3 separate regions of the Homo sapiens genome follow, and regions 2 and 3 are each linked to region 1. Evidence: fine-mapped expression QTL. A gene starts in region 1. Each other region holds a variant in brackets. All regions are shown on one strand. Distances are from middle to middle.

Region 1 (5,506 bases):
GTGTGAGACAGAGTCTCACTCTGTCACCCAGGCTGGAGTGCAGTGGCGCAATCTCAGCTCACTGCAGCCTCCGCCTCCCAGATTCAAGTGATTCTCCTGCCTCAGCCTCCCGGGTAGCTGGAACTACAGGCGTGTGCCACTACACCCAGCTAATTTTTGTATTTTTTAAAGTAGACACAGGGTTTCACAATGTTGGCCAGGCTGGTCTGGAACTCCTGACCTCAAGTGTTCTGCCTGCCTTGGCCTCCCAAAGTGCTGGGATTACAGGCGTGAGCCACTGCACCCAGCCCATAGTTAAATAATTTTTTTAAAGATATAAAAAGATGTTCTGTTAAAAGTCTCCTTCCCACCTCTGTCTCCCAATTGCTCAGTTCCTACTCACTTATCTCCCTCAGGTAGCCAGTGTCATTGGGGCATGTGCCTGTGTGTGTGTCTGTGTGTGTGTGTCTTTGTGTGTGTCCTGAAATTCTTTTTATGCAAGCAAAAAAAAAACTCTACTCTCCTCCCCTTTTAAAAGACTACATGACAATAACATACTTTTTTCCACTGCATAGTATTCCATTACATGGAGGAAGCACCTGTCTCCTTTTAATGGGCATTTATTTGGTTCCAGGCTTATTGCAGATCCTGCTGCAGTGAGTATCTTTGCAGGCATGCCATTGCACACCTGCTGGAGTGTACCTGTTGCAGTGAGTATCTTTGCAGCCATGCCATTGCACACCTGCTGGAGTGTACCTGCTGCAGTATTGGTGGAGGCATGCCATTGCACACCTGCTGGAGTGCATCCTATAATACATTCCTCAAAGTAGCCTTCTGAGTCAAAGAGCACACACATTTATAACTTGAAAAAATGTTGACAAATTGCATCTTTTTTTTAACAGCTCCTATGTGATTTTAACACATTACTCAATCTGTGGGAGGGGAGACCATGCCCTGGACCAGTGCTGCTTAGTCAACATTTAACTTTTTAAACTGAAAATCACCTGGGGAGCTTGTTAAAATGCAGATTCTGATTCTGGAGTTCTAGGGTGGGCCCAAGAATCTGTATTTCTAGCAAACTCCCGGGTGATGCCAATACTGCTGGTCCATGGACCGCACTTTGAGTATCAAGACACTAGAGGACACATACTGAGCATAATTCCCAGGTGTCAGCTGCTATGCCATGAAGGCAATTAGACTTAGCATGCCCAGGACCTAAATTCCAGTCCCGGGACAGCAGTTCGCCAGCTGAGGGGCCTTGCTGGCCAAATCCCTACATTTTCTGAGCCTCAGTCGCCTCATCTGTAAAACAGGTGCAGTAAAGATAAGTATGTAAGGATTAAATAACATCGGTACATCTCAAAACCAATGTGCTGAGCAAAAGAAGCCAGACAATAGAGTACATCCCGTAAGATTCTATTTTTGTGGAACTGTAGAATAGGCAAAGTCAATCTATGGTGATAGAAATCAGAATGGGTGCCTCCGGTCTGGGGCAAAGGGGACTGACTGGGAAAGGGGAGGAGGGAACTTTCAGGGGTAGTGGAAATATCTCACTTGTTTTCGTGGTAACACGGGTATATACATTTGTCAAAACTCACTGAACTATGCACTTCAAATCTGTGCATTTTATAACATGTAAGTTATACCAAAATTTAAAAATAGATGAAAAGTAAATGATACAACTTCGTGTAAACTGTGACGTGCCATCAAAACAGAAGCCAGTCTTAGCTTAAGGAAATGTGCCACCTGCGTGCAGGGATGAGGTCATCGATCGACAGGGGACCAGAGACGGCGCTCCACCCCTGCATGGTAGCAGCGTGCTCCCAGCCCCGCGCCGCCGGGACGGCCCACGCCCTGCCTCGGTTTCCCCCGATGGCCGCCGCTTACTTGCTTCGGAACTCGTCGAGCGCGCGCTGCGCCTCGGTGCCCTGGCGCTCCAGCCGGGCGCGCTCGGCCTCCAGGTCCCGGACGCGCTGGCGGTTGCTCTCGACTTGGCGGGCGAGGGCGTCCTCGGGCCCGGCCAGCTCGCCCAGGCGCTGGAAGGCATCCAGCTGCCTCCGGAGCCCGGCATGGCGCTGCTCGAGGGCGCGGGCCCGCTGGACGTGGGCGGCCACGCGCTCGCCGAGCCCCTGCAGCGCCGCCAGGCTCGTTGCCCCAGCCCAGCCCTCGTCGGCCGGGCGCTCGGGCTCGGCGGCGCGCGAAGCCTCGTCGGCGTGCTCGTACTGCTCCTTGCGGGTCTGGAAGACGTAGCTGCGCCGGTACATGGCTGCTCTGGCGCGGGCGCGCGGGCGGCGCCGAGCCGGCTCTCCAGGAGGCCCCCGGCGCAGCCCGCAGCCCGCTAAATAAACACCGGAGGCCCCCGGCGCGCTGCTGGGACGTTCCAGAGCCGATCAGCAGTTGGGCGCCACGCTGGGCCCGGGCGCGGGAGAAGAAAAGAGCAGCGGCCCGCTTTGTGCGGCGGATTAGCGGCCCATACAGCTCCGGGGTTGGAAGGTTACGCTGGGCAATGAGGTTTTTGTTCCGTGATTGTTCAGGCCTGTTGCTTTTGATTGAATGGAGGGTCAGGGGACACGGGAGCCATGACGCTCTTTTCACTGGTTCCACTGGGGACTGTGAAGGAATCCCCAAGCGAACTCTTTAAACTTGGACTAGCTCAAGAGCCCAGGGCTTGTCACTTTGTCTCCTCTTGCATTCAAACTCAATTGTAGAACTCTTTAACAATGCCATTTTTTTTTTCTGATTACTTAAGCAATTCTTTTTTTTTTCTTTTGGTCTTTTTTATTTCCAATTGCTCGGTTATGCATGCAATTCTTTTTCATAATCATAACATGACGTTTAGGACCCTTCTGTATAGCAGAGGTTCTTAACCATGGATGCAAAATAAAATGGCATGTCTCCATTAAGTAGTGAGGTGTGGCGCAAGTAATTTCTTAGTAATACCCGTGCATAAAAGCCTACAATAACTTAGGAGACATGCACGGTTATGTTTTTATAATTCACCCATGCTCTGATGGAGTTTGACATGCTTTCTTGAATGGAAAAAACAAATAGAGCCCCACCCATGGGCCTGTAATAGGTGGTTCACGCCTGTAATCCTAGCACTTTGGGAGGCCGAGGCGGGCGGATCACCTGAGTTCGAGGCCAGCCTGGCCAACATGGTGAAACTCCGTCTCTACTAAAAATACCAAAATTAGCCAGGCGTGGTGGCGTGTGCCAGTAATCCCAGCTACCTGGGAGGCTGAGGCAGGAGAATCGCTGGAACCTGGGAGGCGGAGGCTGCAGTGAGCCGAGATCGCCCCACTGCACTCCAGCCTGGGTAACAGAGTGAGACTCCGTCTCAAAAAAAAAAAAAAAAAGAAAAAGAAAAAAAGATTGCTTTTTTCTTTTTCTTTTTTTAACATAAAATGTAATACAAAAAAATTTTAATAAAAAATGAGATGGGGTCTTGCTATGTTGCCCAGGCAGGACTCAAACTCCTGGGCTCAAGTGATCCGCCATTAATTGGCCAACCCTCAATTCGAGAATAATAAAGGATTTTGTGCCATTATGTTCCATTTTAATTTTTATTATGGAACTAATAGTTGGATTTTAAGGACAAGCTTTTAAAATATATATATATAATTAATAGCTAGACTTTGACAAATTTAAAAGTAAATTTAAGAAAAGAAATTAATACCACTTGATGAGAATGTTTCTGAATGTAAATATTTTGTCATATCTCCAACTTTAAAAATAAGTATCAAAAGGGTTGTTTTCTTAAAAGGATTAGTAGTACCATATAATTACTAACTATATGGATTGTGTGTGATTATACTACAAATTAAAGTCATAGTTATCAAAGATAGAGAAAGAAAATTACACAGATCTTTGTGGAGTTTATTATTACACCAAAATATTACCTCAAGATAATAGATTCCGTCTGGAATAAAGCTCTGCAAGGCCCTAAACTGTGCTGGTGGCATGGTTATTGTTCTATTTTCTTAAACCATTTAAAATTAGATTTGGCCAGGTGCAGTGGACCACACCTCTAATCCAGAACTTTGGGAGGCCAAAGTGGGAGGATCTCTTGAGGCCAGGAGTTCAAGACGAGCCTTGGCAACATAGTGAGACCCCCATTTCTTTTATTTATAAAAATAAAAATAATAAATAAAAATACATAAAATGTAATTGTATGGTCAAATTGAGGATAACCACATGAATATTTTTGTAGGTGCACATATACCATGCTGATAGCATGGTAAATTGACTTCAGGCTTCCTCACGAGAGCAAAACCAACATATAGCAAGAGTTATAAAATCATTTGTTCCCTATGATACCATGTATCAGTCAAATATTGCTACAGAACAAAATAGAAGTATTTATCACTGCATTCCCTGGGGCTGGGAGCTCAGCTGTCTTCCAGCTGTAGGTCTCCTTTCAGCAGGGGCTGCTCTGCTCCCAATGTCCCTCAAGCTTCTAAACTAGCAATGAAAAAAGCACAAGAGCAAGCCCAGCCACACAAGCTCATCCCAGGCCTTTGTTTGCATCATGTCTGCTGACATCTCATTGGTCAAAGCAAATCACATGGCCACAAATAAAGTCAAGAGGAAGCAAGGAGGAGGCAGGGCTCAGCCTGAGGCCCTGGCAAGGGTGTGGGTGGATAATCCCATCATGCTGGAGTGGAGAATCAGGACCCACAACTCAATCGACCACACATGGCAATACCATTTGAGAAAAATATATTCTAGAAACATAACAAAAAATTCTTTCAATTTAATCCAGTGAAATAAACACTCAGAAAATATCTCCTCACAAAGCGTAGCCTCAGAGTTAAATATTGCACAAAATCAAGTCTCTGCCCTCAGGGTGCAGGAGGCGAATCCATACTGACTAATGAAAACACAAGATAATCTGGACAACTTCTAAAATAAAGATCTTAGCAAAATGCTGTGGTTGTATTGTCTAACTTCAGGTGCACTGGGAAATGCAATCCTGCTATGTGCTTAGAAGGAGTGTGCAATATTTGTCAACAGCCCTAAAGACCATATCACTGATAGGAGACCATTCAGTAGGAGTAGAGATCGTATGCATAAGGAAGAAATCATTGCTGAATGAATTTGTTAATTCAAGAGACATGTTCGTAGAGATAGATTCCACAGGACTTGATGAAAGGTCAGCTATGGAAGAGTTACTCTAAATACAGTTGAATGGCACTAGTTTGGGGGCAGGGACAGGAAATGGATGTTTTAGAATAAGAAAGATCTGAGGTTAAGTTCTGGTCCCATCACTTCAGTAAGTGATTTAACCTATCTAGTCCCAGTATGGAGACTGGTAAAATGAGAATAATCACTTATGTAAGTAGGGTAACCACACATCCCAGTTTGCCTAAGACACATTTACACCCACTATCTCAGCGTAAATATAGCAAGCACCATCTTTCACTCTCAAGGGTATCTTGGTTTGTCTGAGAAATACACGTCTTTTATCTGGCCTGCATAACCTGAATATGTAGCCTATATCTGACCATAAGGAATCATCCAGATAAAT
Region 2 (5,506 bases), 370 kb after region 1:
GGAGAACCATTTGGCAGTTTCTTCTAAAATTAAACATACACTCACCATGTGACCAAGCAGTTCCACTCCTGGGTATATACCCTGAAAGAAATGAGTGCGTACACACACCAAAAAACATGTACAAAAATACACATTGCTGCTAAATCGATAACAGCCAAAAACTAAATACAACTCAAATGCCCATCAATAGAAGAATAGATAAATACATTGTGGTGTACAGCACAGCAAGAAAAATGAATGGGTTGCTCTTACGTGAAATATGAATGAATCTCAAAAACACAATATTGATCACAAGATATCAAATAAGCCAGGCACAGTGTGGCTCACACCTGTAATCCCAGAACCTTGAGAGGCTGAGGCCAGAGGATCCCTTGAGTCTAGGAACTTAAGACCAGCCTGGGCAACATAGGGTGACCCCATCTCTACAAAAAAATTTTTTAAAAATTAGCTGGGTGTGGTAGTGTGCACCTGTAGTCCCAGTTCCTCGGGAGGCTGGAGCGGGGGCACCGCTTGAGCCCAGGAGTTCAAGGCTGCATTGAGCTATGGTCACACCACTGCACTCCAGCCTGAGTCACAGAGGACTAAGACCCCTTTTTAAAAAATAAAAATAAAAAATAAAAAAATAAAAGGCAAAACTTATCTACATATGATGAGAGAGGTCAGAATAGTGTCTACTTGTTTAGGGCAGTGGGAGATGGGGATTGAGTGAGAAAGGGCCTGAAGGAACTTACTAGAATGATGGAAATGTTCTCTATCCTGATCTTGGTGGTTGTTACATGAGTGTATACATAGGTAAAAATTCATTGAGCATCCACTTAAGATTTGTGTATTTTACTATATGCAAATTATGCATCAATAAAAGAGCAAAAACAATCAAAACTCTTAGGTGACCACACCTGATATAAGCATGGCTGATACATTAAAAAGCTTGCATATATTACAATGAATACCATCATTTGGGAATTTAATATAATTTTGTAACAGCCTCAGAAACAGTCATATTCCAGAGGCCCTTGGCAACAGCTTTGTTGCTTACAGCTCACCAGCACCAAAAGGGACCCGTCGCTTTCCAACCAAGGGGGCTGTGGCCCTGCCCAGAACTCTCAAGGGATCCACCTTTCTGGGTCGAACTCTCACAGCTCCCAGAGTACCTGGGGCCAAGCACGTGAGCTGCCAGCAGGCCTTAGCACCCTGGGATGCCAGACCTGCTCAAACTTGGAGAGGGTCCTACAGGTCCTTGGAGGAAAATTACAAGCCCCAAGTACACTGGACACACAGAGTTTGCCTGTGATGAAAACTTAGATGAAGGAAGAAGCCCTTTAGGAGGGTCTTTCTTGTCTTCTGCAGATGTGCGGCTCTAGCCGTGCTGCAACGCAGACCATGGACCAGGAGCTCCCAACCTCAGCTGCACAGCACAGGGGAGCATTGGAACATGGGATGCCCGGACCGTCTGACCCACACCAACTGAATCAGAATCTTTAATATGGTGTTTCTCAGAGGGCCCCCTGGAGCCACAGCAACATTGTCACCTGGGAACCTGTTAGAAATGCACATTCTCAGGCCCCACTTCAGACCCACTGAATTCTGTGGCCAGCCCCAGCAATCTTTGTTCTGACTGTTCTCACAGTCCCTGCCAGGGGTTCTGATGCATGTGGAAGTGTGGGACCTAATTAGAAACTGCATTTCTAGCAAGTTTCCAGGCGGTGCAGATGTGGCTGCTCTGGGGACTACACTCTGAAAACCACCAGAGTCTAACTGTCTAATGGGTAGAGCCAAGCTCTGGGAGAGAGTGGGGGAAATTAAAAGCTACCCAGGTGAGTGGCTCTGATGCAGGTGAGAGTAATTAGCATTGCCATAGCCTCTCATCGTCTCATCTGACAAGAGGTACACAGCTGGAGAGGGAGCTCACACAGGTGAGGGCGTTACAGGAGAAGAAATACCATCTCCTCAATTTGACCTGTCTGTGGTCTCTTCATTTCTATAACACTGCAATTTGGGGTTCCTGGTACGGCAGAATTTAGGTTCTAGGTGCCTAGCCCTGAGAATTTGTTCTGGCAATATTGAAGCTGGAGACGTTTTTGTTAGAACACTTTGCATAAAAGCCTTTATGGGGAAGGGGACCTGATTTTACCTTAAAAAGCTAATTTTTGGCCCAAGATAGATGAGACTTAGAAGGGGAGAGGAAGTAAAGGAGGAGTAAAGAGAATGAAAAGAAGAGATGATGTGCAGGGCTGGGGAGGAGAGAGCAAATGGGGAGGAAGAGAAAGAACTGTGAGAGAAGGACTGAAAGATCGTCTCTCCTTTCCAAGGAGCGTCCGCCCTCTCTCTTTTTTTAAAATTGAGCACTGAGAAGGGATTTATGCAAGACTGGGTGCAAGAGCTGGGCAAGCTGATATGCAAAGCAGGAAAGCAAAGGATTGAAAGGAGTCAAAGTGCTGTCTTTGGCAGCACATGTATAAAATTGGAATGAAGGCCGGGCACCGTGGCTCACGTCTGTAATCCCAGCACTTTGGGAGGCTGAAGTGGGCGGATCACTTGAGGCCAGGAGTTCGAGACCAGTCTGGCCAACATGATGAAACCCGTTTCTACTAAAACTATGAAAACTAGCCGGGCGTGGTGGTGCATGCCTGTAATTCCAGCTACTCGGGAGGCTGAAGCAGGAACTCAGGAGGCACAGGTTTCAATGAGCCGAGATCACGCCACTGTACTCCAGCCTGGGTAACAGAGTGACACTCTGTCTCTAAATAAATAAATAAAACTGGAACAATACAGAGAAGATTAGCATGGCCCCTGCAAGGATGACACACGAATTCATGAAAAGTTCCATATCAATAAAAATTATTTTAAAATTTTTTTAAAAGAATGAGTTAAAGGAGACCCCAAAGGAGTGAGTGGGGGCTGGAGGCCAGGCCCACCATGGCAGAGGGTCAGACTTCATCAGGGTGAAAACTTCCTGCTGTGAAAAGCCAAACTACAGACTGGGAGAAAATGTTCACAGCACCTGTATCTGAAAAAGGATTTGCATTCCAAATACATAAAGAACCCATACAACTCACTAATAGGAAGGCAAACAGTGAAAACTGAGCAAAAGACATGAACAGACACTTCACAAAGGACATGCAAATGGCCAGCACGCACAGGAAGAGATGCTCACCCTCAGTAGTCTTCAGGGAGATGCAGAATGAAACCACAGTAAGATGCTACCTCACAC[T/C]CACAAGCATGGCTGAAAATAAAAAGATGTGTAATACCAGTATTGGTTAGAATGTAGGGCAGCTGAAACTCCTAGCTCACTGGCAGGAACTTAAAATAGTACAGGCTGGATGCAGTGGCTCACGTCTGTAATCCCAGCACTTTGGGAGGCCAAGACGGGCAGACTGCTTGAGCCCAGGAGTTTGAGACCAGCCTGGGCAATGTGGCAAAACCCCATCTCTACTAAAAATACAAAAAATTAGCTGGGTGTGGTGGCATGCATCTGTAATACCAACTACCCCAGCAGGCTGAAGTGGGAGAATCACCTGAGCCAGGGAGGTCGAGACTGCAGTGAGCTGTGATCATGCTACTGCTCTCCAGCCTGGGTGATAGAGTGAGACCCTGTCTCAAAAAATAAAGATACAAATAAAATAAAATAGTACAACTGCTTGGGAGAACTACTGGAGTTTATTTTAAATCTAAACAAACACCCACCATTTGACCCAGCAATTCTACTGTTATGTATTTACTGAAGTACCATAAAAACATAGGCCCACAAAAAGACTTGTACACAAATGTGAATAGGCGTAAGTAGCTAGTGGCCACCATAATGCTGTTGGATTTGATTGCTCAAAAGCTTGTGGAAGTCTACATTGGAATAATAGGTTGCCTTTTTAAAAGGCTTGTATCCAAATGTGCGTAACAGCTTTATTCACGATTGCTAAAAATTGGAAACAATTCAAGTAATCCATCAACTAGGAAATGGGTAAACAAAATTTGTTCTCTTCATAGAAAGGGATAGTAATAAAAAGATTGAAATTACTAATAGATGCAACAACATGGATGAGTCTTAAAATCACTGTGTAAAATAAAAGCTGGATGCAAGAGTGCCTACCATATGATTCATTTATATAAAATTTTTAAACAAAGAGAACTAATTTATAGTTACAGAAAGCAGATCAACGATGAACTGGGACTGAGGTGACTGCAAGTGGGGGACTAAAACACTTTCTGGGGTGATGGACAGGTGTTATATCTTGTTTAGGTGCATGCATTTGTCAAAAGTTGTCCAACTGAATGCTTAAAATGTATGAATGAGTTTTATTGTATGTAAATTATACCTCAATAACGTTTATTTAAAATGAATTGGCCGGCACGGTGGCTTACGCCTGTAACCCCAGAACAGCACTTTGGGAGGCTGAGGCGGGTAGATCACCTGAGGTCAGGAGTTCAAGACCAGCCTGGCCAACATGGTGAAACCCTGTCTCTACTAAAAATACAAAAAAAAAAAGAAAAAAAAATTAGCCGGGCGTGGTGACAGGCACCTGTAATCCCAGCTACTCGGGAGTCTGAGGAAGGAGAATTGCTTGAACCCAGGAGGCGGAGGTTGCAGTGAGCCGAGATCGTGCCATTGCACTCCAGCATGAGAGACAGGGCAAGACTCCGTCTCAAAAATAAATAAATAAAATGAATCAAAAATAAAAATATAAAAAAATAGCAGAAAAGAAAAAAGGACAAGAATAAAATAAAAATAAAGAAAAGAAAAATAAAGAAAAAAATAAGAAACTTTGTGGTAAAAATAATAAAACAGTAAAATAGGAAGAGCACACAGAATGGGAAGAGAAATGGACCAAGGTGAAAACCGTGAAGAGCTGTCGAACTTGAAGAATAGAAAAGGAAGAATGAGCAGAGATGCACAGGCAGAGGTCAGAATGAAGTCCTCTGGGGGTCAAAGAAGTAAGAAGCTTGGTGGCCACAGACAGCAGAGAGTTAAAAGAGCCAAGGGGGCCAGCCAGTAAGATTAATGCCTGGAGAGGGCTGTAGGATGGGGCCCGAGTGGAGAAGTGACTCCTGAGAGGCCAGTTCTGAAGGTGGGTTGAGGGGTGATAACTTGGGCTGAGGGAGCAGAGAAGGAGCCTTCGGCAGCTTTGTCAGGGAGCCTGGGGAAGGAGAGTGGGCTCCAACAGGAGGCTGCTGGGAGAACCCCAGGGGAAACCCACCTGGTGGCCTCAATCTCCTGACACTGTCTTTCACGTCTTCATTCCTACACAGGGATAGATATTGCTATTTGACCACTGCCCCTGCACAAGGTGTGCCAAAAGTCCCCAAGCCCCTTTCCCATAAGAAGTTTACTGTATGTTTGCACTGAGGAAAGCTAAATAAGCTAGGTGAATTCCCCACCCCAAATTCCTAGGGATGCCGCTGGCTTGCCCCACCAAATCGGTCTCTCCTATCTGCCTGTATTGCTGGTGGGAATGTACTTTGGTTTGACTTCCATAGGAGCTGGTTTGGCAAAAACTATCAAAACTACAAATGC
Region 3 (5,506 bases), 26 kb before region 1:
GCTGTAGAGAACATAGAGGGGCCATGTGTTGAGGGATGGGGCGGGAGGGCTCATGAGACAGACTATTCTCACTTTTAATTTTTGAGACAGGCAGGGTCTCACTCTATTGCCCAGGCTGGAGTGCAGTGCTGCCATCAGGACTCCCTGAAGCCTCCACATCCTGGGCTCAAGTGGTCCCCACACCTTTGTCTCCTCAGTAGCTGAGACCACAGGTGAATGCCACCATGCCCAGCCAATTAAAAAAAAATTTTTTTTTGTAGAGACAAGGTCTAATTATGTTGCCTAGGCTGGTCTTGAACTTCTGGGCTGAAGTGATCCTCCCACCTTGGCCTCCCAAAGTACTAGGATTACAGGCGTGAGCCATAGCACCTATAATCTCTCACTTTTCTATGTTTGAAATCTTCCATAATAAAGAGTAAAAGAAAAAATTACATATGAAGAGAATGTACCCCAGATCACTGACCCAAGAGCTCTGGGGTGGCCGTTCCTTTTGGGTGTGGGTTCCCCAGCCCAGAGCGGGGGTAGTGGCTCATGCTGATAAGTCCTAAGCTGGGTCAACTCATCAACCTCACAACAACCTTATCAGGGAAGGGCTGTCATTATTTCCACTTTACAGATGAGGAAACTGGGGCACACTGGCAAAGTGGCTTGCCCATAAATACCACAGCAGGATTCGAATCTACCTGAACAAGGTCTGAAACACCTCCCAGAACCAGGCCACCCTTGCCCTGCACCTCAGCCTCCTCCCTGCTGCAGGCAACAATATGCAAGCACACACGTGCGTGCACACACACACACTCTGTCTCCAGGGCCCCTGCAAACTCCCCATTCCCACACAGCAACAGGCCAACACCAGCCTGTTCTCTCTGAAGACATGGGAAAGTCAGTGTGAGCCATGCAGAGACCTCTCCTTGCAGGTTTTCACTTAGCAAAGTTTTAAACTGTAAATAGAACCACAAAGCATCACAGAATGGGAAATGAGAGCCCAGGAAAGTCACCTGTGATCTTTCTACCCTACAAGTGGAGTGCAATCTTTTTATGTCTCAGGAAGTGGTGATTGTTGTTTTTGTGGTAGTGGTAGGGGGTGGAGGGATGGGGTGTTTTCTTGGGTGTGCATTTGTGTTTGTTTGAAGAAGGCTGCATGTTTTAAAGGCTGGAGATCCTCTGCTGGAACACTGCGGGAGGAGCTCCTGTCCTGGGCGCCCCCACAGCCCCCATCCCCCACATGACCATGAGGCCCAGAGCCCTCCAACTCCGTACTGGTCGCAGATGCTCTACGGGATTCTGCTGAGTCCAGTGAAGTGATGACTTGGTTTATAAAAGTGGACTGATGTCTATACCGATGTGGTTTTTACAGCTCCATAATTTAAACCTTTCATCAGAAGGAAGAGTGTTCAGGAAAACCAGTAAGAGCTCCTGTCTCAGGAGCTCAACAGGAATGGAGATGCCTGTGACGAGAGCCACTGTGGCACGGCGTCCACTGCCACCCAGCACCAGCCTGGCCGAGGAGAATGAGACACGGACCCTCCTCTAGAAGGCCGCAGTCCAGCAGGGGAGGCACGCCCAGGGCATCTCAGAGGAAGAAAGGGGCTTCCAGGAGGAGGCAGGACCGGTCCTGGGAACCGAGGAAGGAAAGGGACTTCCAGAAAGGAGAGAAGGAATGAGCAAAGGGGAGGTCCCAGAAACTGCAGGAGGGGTCAGGAGACGAAGAGAAGAGAGGTTGGCCCAGGGTTCCTCCAACGGTGGGGCCATGTGGCAACCTGAACTTTATCCGGAGCCAGGTGACTGCTGTTTCTGCCTGGACCGTTAGATTGCCTGGTTTATATCTGTCTCCCCACTGGGCTGTGAGCCGCTGAGGGCACGACACAGGCAGGAGCCTGACGCGAGCCCCATCTGGAGGGGTGAGCTCTCACCTCAGTCCTTAGGACCCCAGACACCTTTAGGTGTAAGGTTTTTTTTTTGTTTTTGTTTTTGTTTTTGTTTTGTCTTAAAAAAAAAAAAAAGGAAACTCATTACATACTGTCTTACACAAACTAAACCACTAGATGGTGCTAAGTGACTTTAATGAGAAATGAGACATGGGCGGTTCCCACTTTGCAATTTTAAAAAGTGACTTTCTTTACTTCCCTGTCACAGAAACTCTCAGTCCATGCAATTTAGGGAACTAGAATTACCTGTCCTTTCCTCTCCACCTGTCCGAAGTGCTTCCTCCGGGGCTCTTACGGGTATATGTGCACTTATTTGAAGGAGAGGCTTCCAGCTTCCAGCTCCAAGCCCAGGCACTATTCTCCCATCGTCCGCCCAGCGTCTCCCAGACTGAGCCCGCAGAGCCACGTGGAGGGCTTAAACAAGGCGCACCGGCCCGCCCCAGAGCTCCTGGGTCAGTGGTCTGGGGTGCCTGTGAATCTGCATTTCTGACAAGTTCCCAGGTGGTGCCCCCGCTGCTGGGACGGGGACCTCACCCTGACGACCCCTGCTGTGGAGAGTTCGGGAAGCTTCGGACGCCCTAACCATAGGCGGAACCCGCTGCCACGGCCCTGGTGCTAGCAGACGCTCTCTCTCGGCCCGCCCTCCACCGAGTTCCGGCCACAG[A/T]GCGGGCCCTGCCCGGCGGTGTGCGGCCACATCTTCCTTCAGCTCTAGCTTAGCTGCTACATTGGGAAGCCACTAAAACCTTTAAAACCAGCAAAAACCCAGCCACAAACATTTGAAATGAGGCCCAAGCCTGGGACACAGGGGGACCAGGTGGAACATTCGCCCACTCCCTGGGACCCGCCCTTACCCTGTGGTTCTCAGTGTGGCTCCTGGACCAGCCGCAGCACCATCACAGGGACACCTAGACATGCAGCATCCCGGGCCACACCCCAGACCCACTGAGTCAGGAGCTCCCGGGCGCACCCAGCCACGTCTGGGTTTTCATCAGAGCTAAGGAGGCAGAATTTTGGCCCCCGTGACCTTTTCCCCTTGGTGCTACACCCTTGAATATGTTACATGGCAAAAAGGGACTTTGCAGATATAATTAAAGTTCTTAATCAGTTACCCTTTTTTAAGGAAAGGAGTTTATTCAAGATTATCCCCTAAAAACAGAAGTCAGAGAAACGTGTAAGTCCAAGTCATTGAGATGAGACGCAGGAAGAGGGTTCAGAGTTCGCTGCCGGCTCCGAACGTGGAGGGGCCTGAAGCCAAGGAGCCTGGGCAGCCCTGACAGCCACTCCTGGCCAGCAGCCGGCAAAGAAACAGGGTCCTCACTCCTGCCAAGAACTTGAATGAGACTGGAAGCAAATTCTCCCCTAACAGCCTCTGGACAAGGGCCCAGGCTGGCCAACATCTTTCTTTCTACCTTTTGAGACCCAGAGCAGAGAAACCGATAGGACCCACCCAGACTTCCCACCTACACAACTGCGATGACACGGGTGCTGGTGGTGACTCATCAAGGCAGCAACAGAAAATGGACACAGCCGTGTTTCATCAGCTACATGCTATAGCTTGTTACTGAGTGAGTATAAGCACATCTGTCATTTTATTTAAAATGATTCAGTAATATTTTGATAACTGTTTTAATATAATTAGTTTCTTTTTTTTTTTTTTTGGAAACGGGGTCTCATTCTGTTGCCCAGGCTGGAGTGCAGTGGCTCAGTCTCAGCTCACTGCAGCCTCAACCTCTCCAGGCTCAGGCAGTCCTCCCATGTCAGCTTCCTAAGTAGCTGGAACCACAGGCACGCACCACCACGCCCAGCTAATTTTTGTATTTTTTGTAGAGGTGGGGTTTCGTCATGTGGCCCAGGCTGGTCTCAAATTCCTGGACTCGAGCAGTCCACTCACCTTGCCCTCCCAAAGTGCTGGCATTACAGGCGTGAGCCACCACACCCAGCCTGGTTTCCTTTAAATTATCTGTATTTTATTTTATGCCTTTACCATCATTTTTCTGAGAAGCGGTCTCCATCAGAATGCCACGGGTGGGAGTGGAGGAGGCAGCACAGAAGAGATGTTTGAGACCCTGCTTTAGAGACGAGGGCAGCAGGGAAAAGCCAGGAAGTCCTCCTGCAGCCACTCAGGACAGAAACAGGCGGCCAACCAGCGGTTTCATTTCATGTTCTCAGAAACCAGGTTAATCTGTTGTGAAATTTCTTATTTTGATATTCAACAAATACCTGTACATAAAGAGAGGAACATTCTTTTTGTCCTGGAACTGGAATTTGCCATCTAGGCTGGGCTCCTTCATCTTTCTCAGTATCTCTAGGGCAGTGGTTTTCAACTTTATCACCACCGCCCCAGGAAAAACCACATTTCTCATTGCGAGCCATACACATCAGATAGGTAGGTGTGTGTGTGTGTGTGTGTGTGTGTGTGTGTGTATTTCAACATATCCATATGGATATAGAGAGATAAAACAAGGGCTTCACAAAACAAATCCTCCCTTTCACTTGCTGTACACTCTGTTTTTCTTATTATATTTTAGTCTAGCATTTTGTTGACTTCCTTTTACATGCCAGTCAATTCTACTGAGTTCATTTTACATCCAAAAATGAGTTGTCACTAGCCATTTGGAAAACACTGGTCTCTAGGACCACGACTGGGCTTGTATCCACGTCCCTATTCACATACACAGCACACACACATACACATGACACACACACACCACACACACTTCACATACACATCCCACATATATCACACATACCATGTATATCACACACACACACCCCATGTACACAAACACATACAACCCTTATTCTATCCTGTCAGAGCCTCAGAAGAAACCACACAGGCCCCAGTCACCAGGATGAGGCACATGGTCCCTGAGCCAGGGTTTGTCTCACAAGAAGGAGGAGTTTTAAGTGCCTTACTTGGTTCCTCCTGCTGCGATCGTCAGTTCAGGGGACCACCACAGACCCGGGTTTGCTTTCCAGCAGCCCCTGAGAGCTGCTGCACTGTGAGTTTTGTGTGGTGCGTGCTGGGATGGGAATTAGGATGTGAACTCCAAGGTCCCAAAATGAAATCCTGAGCAGACATGGGGGCACTGGAAATCAATAAAAAGCGCTACATCTAGTTGTGGCTTCACATTTTTAGACAGAGTAACACATAACATCCAAATGGTCCAGGCTTTCTGAAGTGTCCGATTTTTACACGTTTTGCTCTCTTGTCCCCATGTGTACTTGTCAAACCAAATGTCAACTTACTTTTTGGTTTGGGAAATGTGGTTAGAGAGCCATACAAAGGTGCAGTATTTTAACCCAAGCGTCCCTGTGGAATGACCTGCTGTAGGGTAATGAGAAAGAGAGAGAACCGGAAGGAACAAAGAAGATGAGCCGGCAAGTAGCCAAGAAGGCACAGGCCACAGGACAGTTTGGGGCTTTTCTGTTTTGTTTTCAAATTAAGCTTCACCCAAAAGGGGTGGGGGTAGAAATGTGAGCTTTCCACCAACACGTTTCTAACTAGAAGCAAACACTGATACAACCACTCTTGCCGGGTTGTAATCAAATTCCGAAGGAGAACTGTTACCATGAGA

The links. PIP is the estimated chance that this variant, and not a neighbour inherited with it, causes the effect.
Region 2: its variant is fine-mapped to the expression of BFSP1 in whole blood (TOPMed, PIP 0.91).
Region 3: its variant is fine-mapped to the expression of BFSP1 in blood mononuclear cells (TOPMed, PIP above 0.99). The same link has a PIP of 0.9 or more in T cells and whole blood.

What each region holds. Positions count from the first base shown.
Region 1 is chr20:17,529,087-17,534,592 of GRCh38, forward strand. It overlaps BFSP1 (beaded filament structural protein 1), which reads right to left and starts at 2,293. Exons shown (of 8, transcript NM_001195.5): 1 at 1,867-2,293. The coding sequence starts at 2,243. RefSeq lists enhancers at 1,553-2,093, 2,094-2,633, 4,447-4,506 and silencers at 1,788-1,837, 1,858-2,187, 2,308-2,357.
Region 2 is chr20:17,901,029-17,906,534 of GRCh38, forward strand. It overlaps the pseudogene RNU6-192P. Among named protein-coding and RNA genes, the nearest start is that of SNORD17, 59 kb to the right of the region's middle. RefSeq lists an enhancer at 3,131-3,190. The variant T/C (reference allele first, on the strand shown) is at 3,212.
Region 3 is chr20:17,502,955-17,508,460 of GRCh38, forward strand. The region is part of intron 5 of BFSP1 (beaded filament structural protein 1); the gene reads right to left. Among named protein-coding and RNA genes, the nearest start is that of BFSP1, 26 kb to the right of the region's middle. RefSeq lists an enhancer at 1,558-2,081. The variant A/T (reference allele first, on the strand shown) is at 2,593.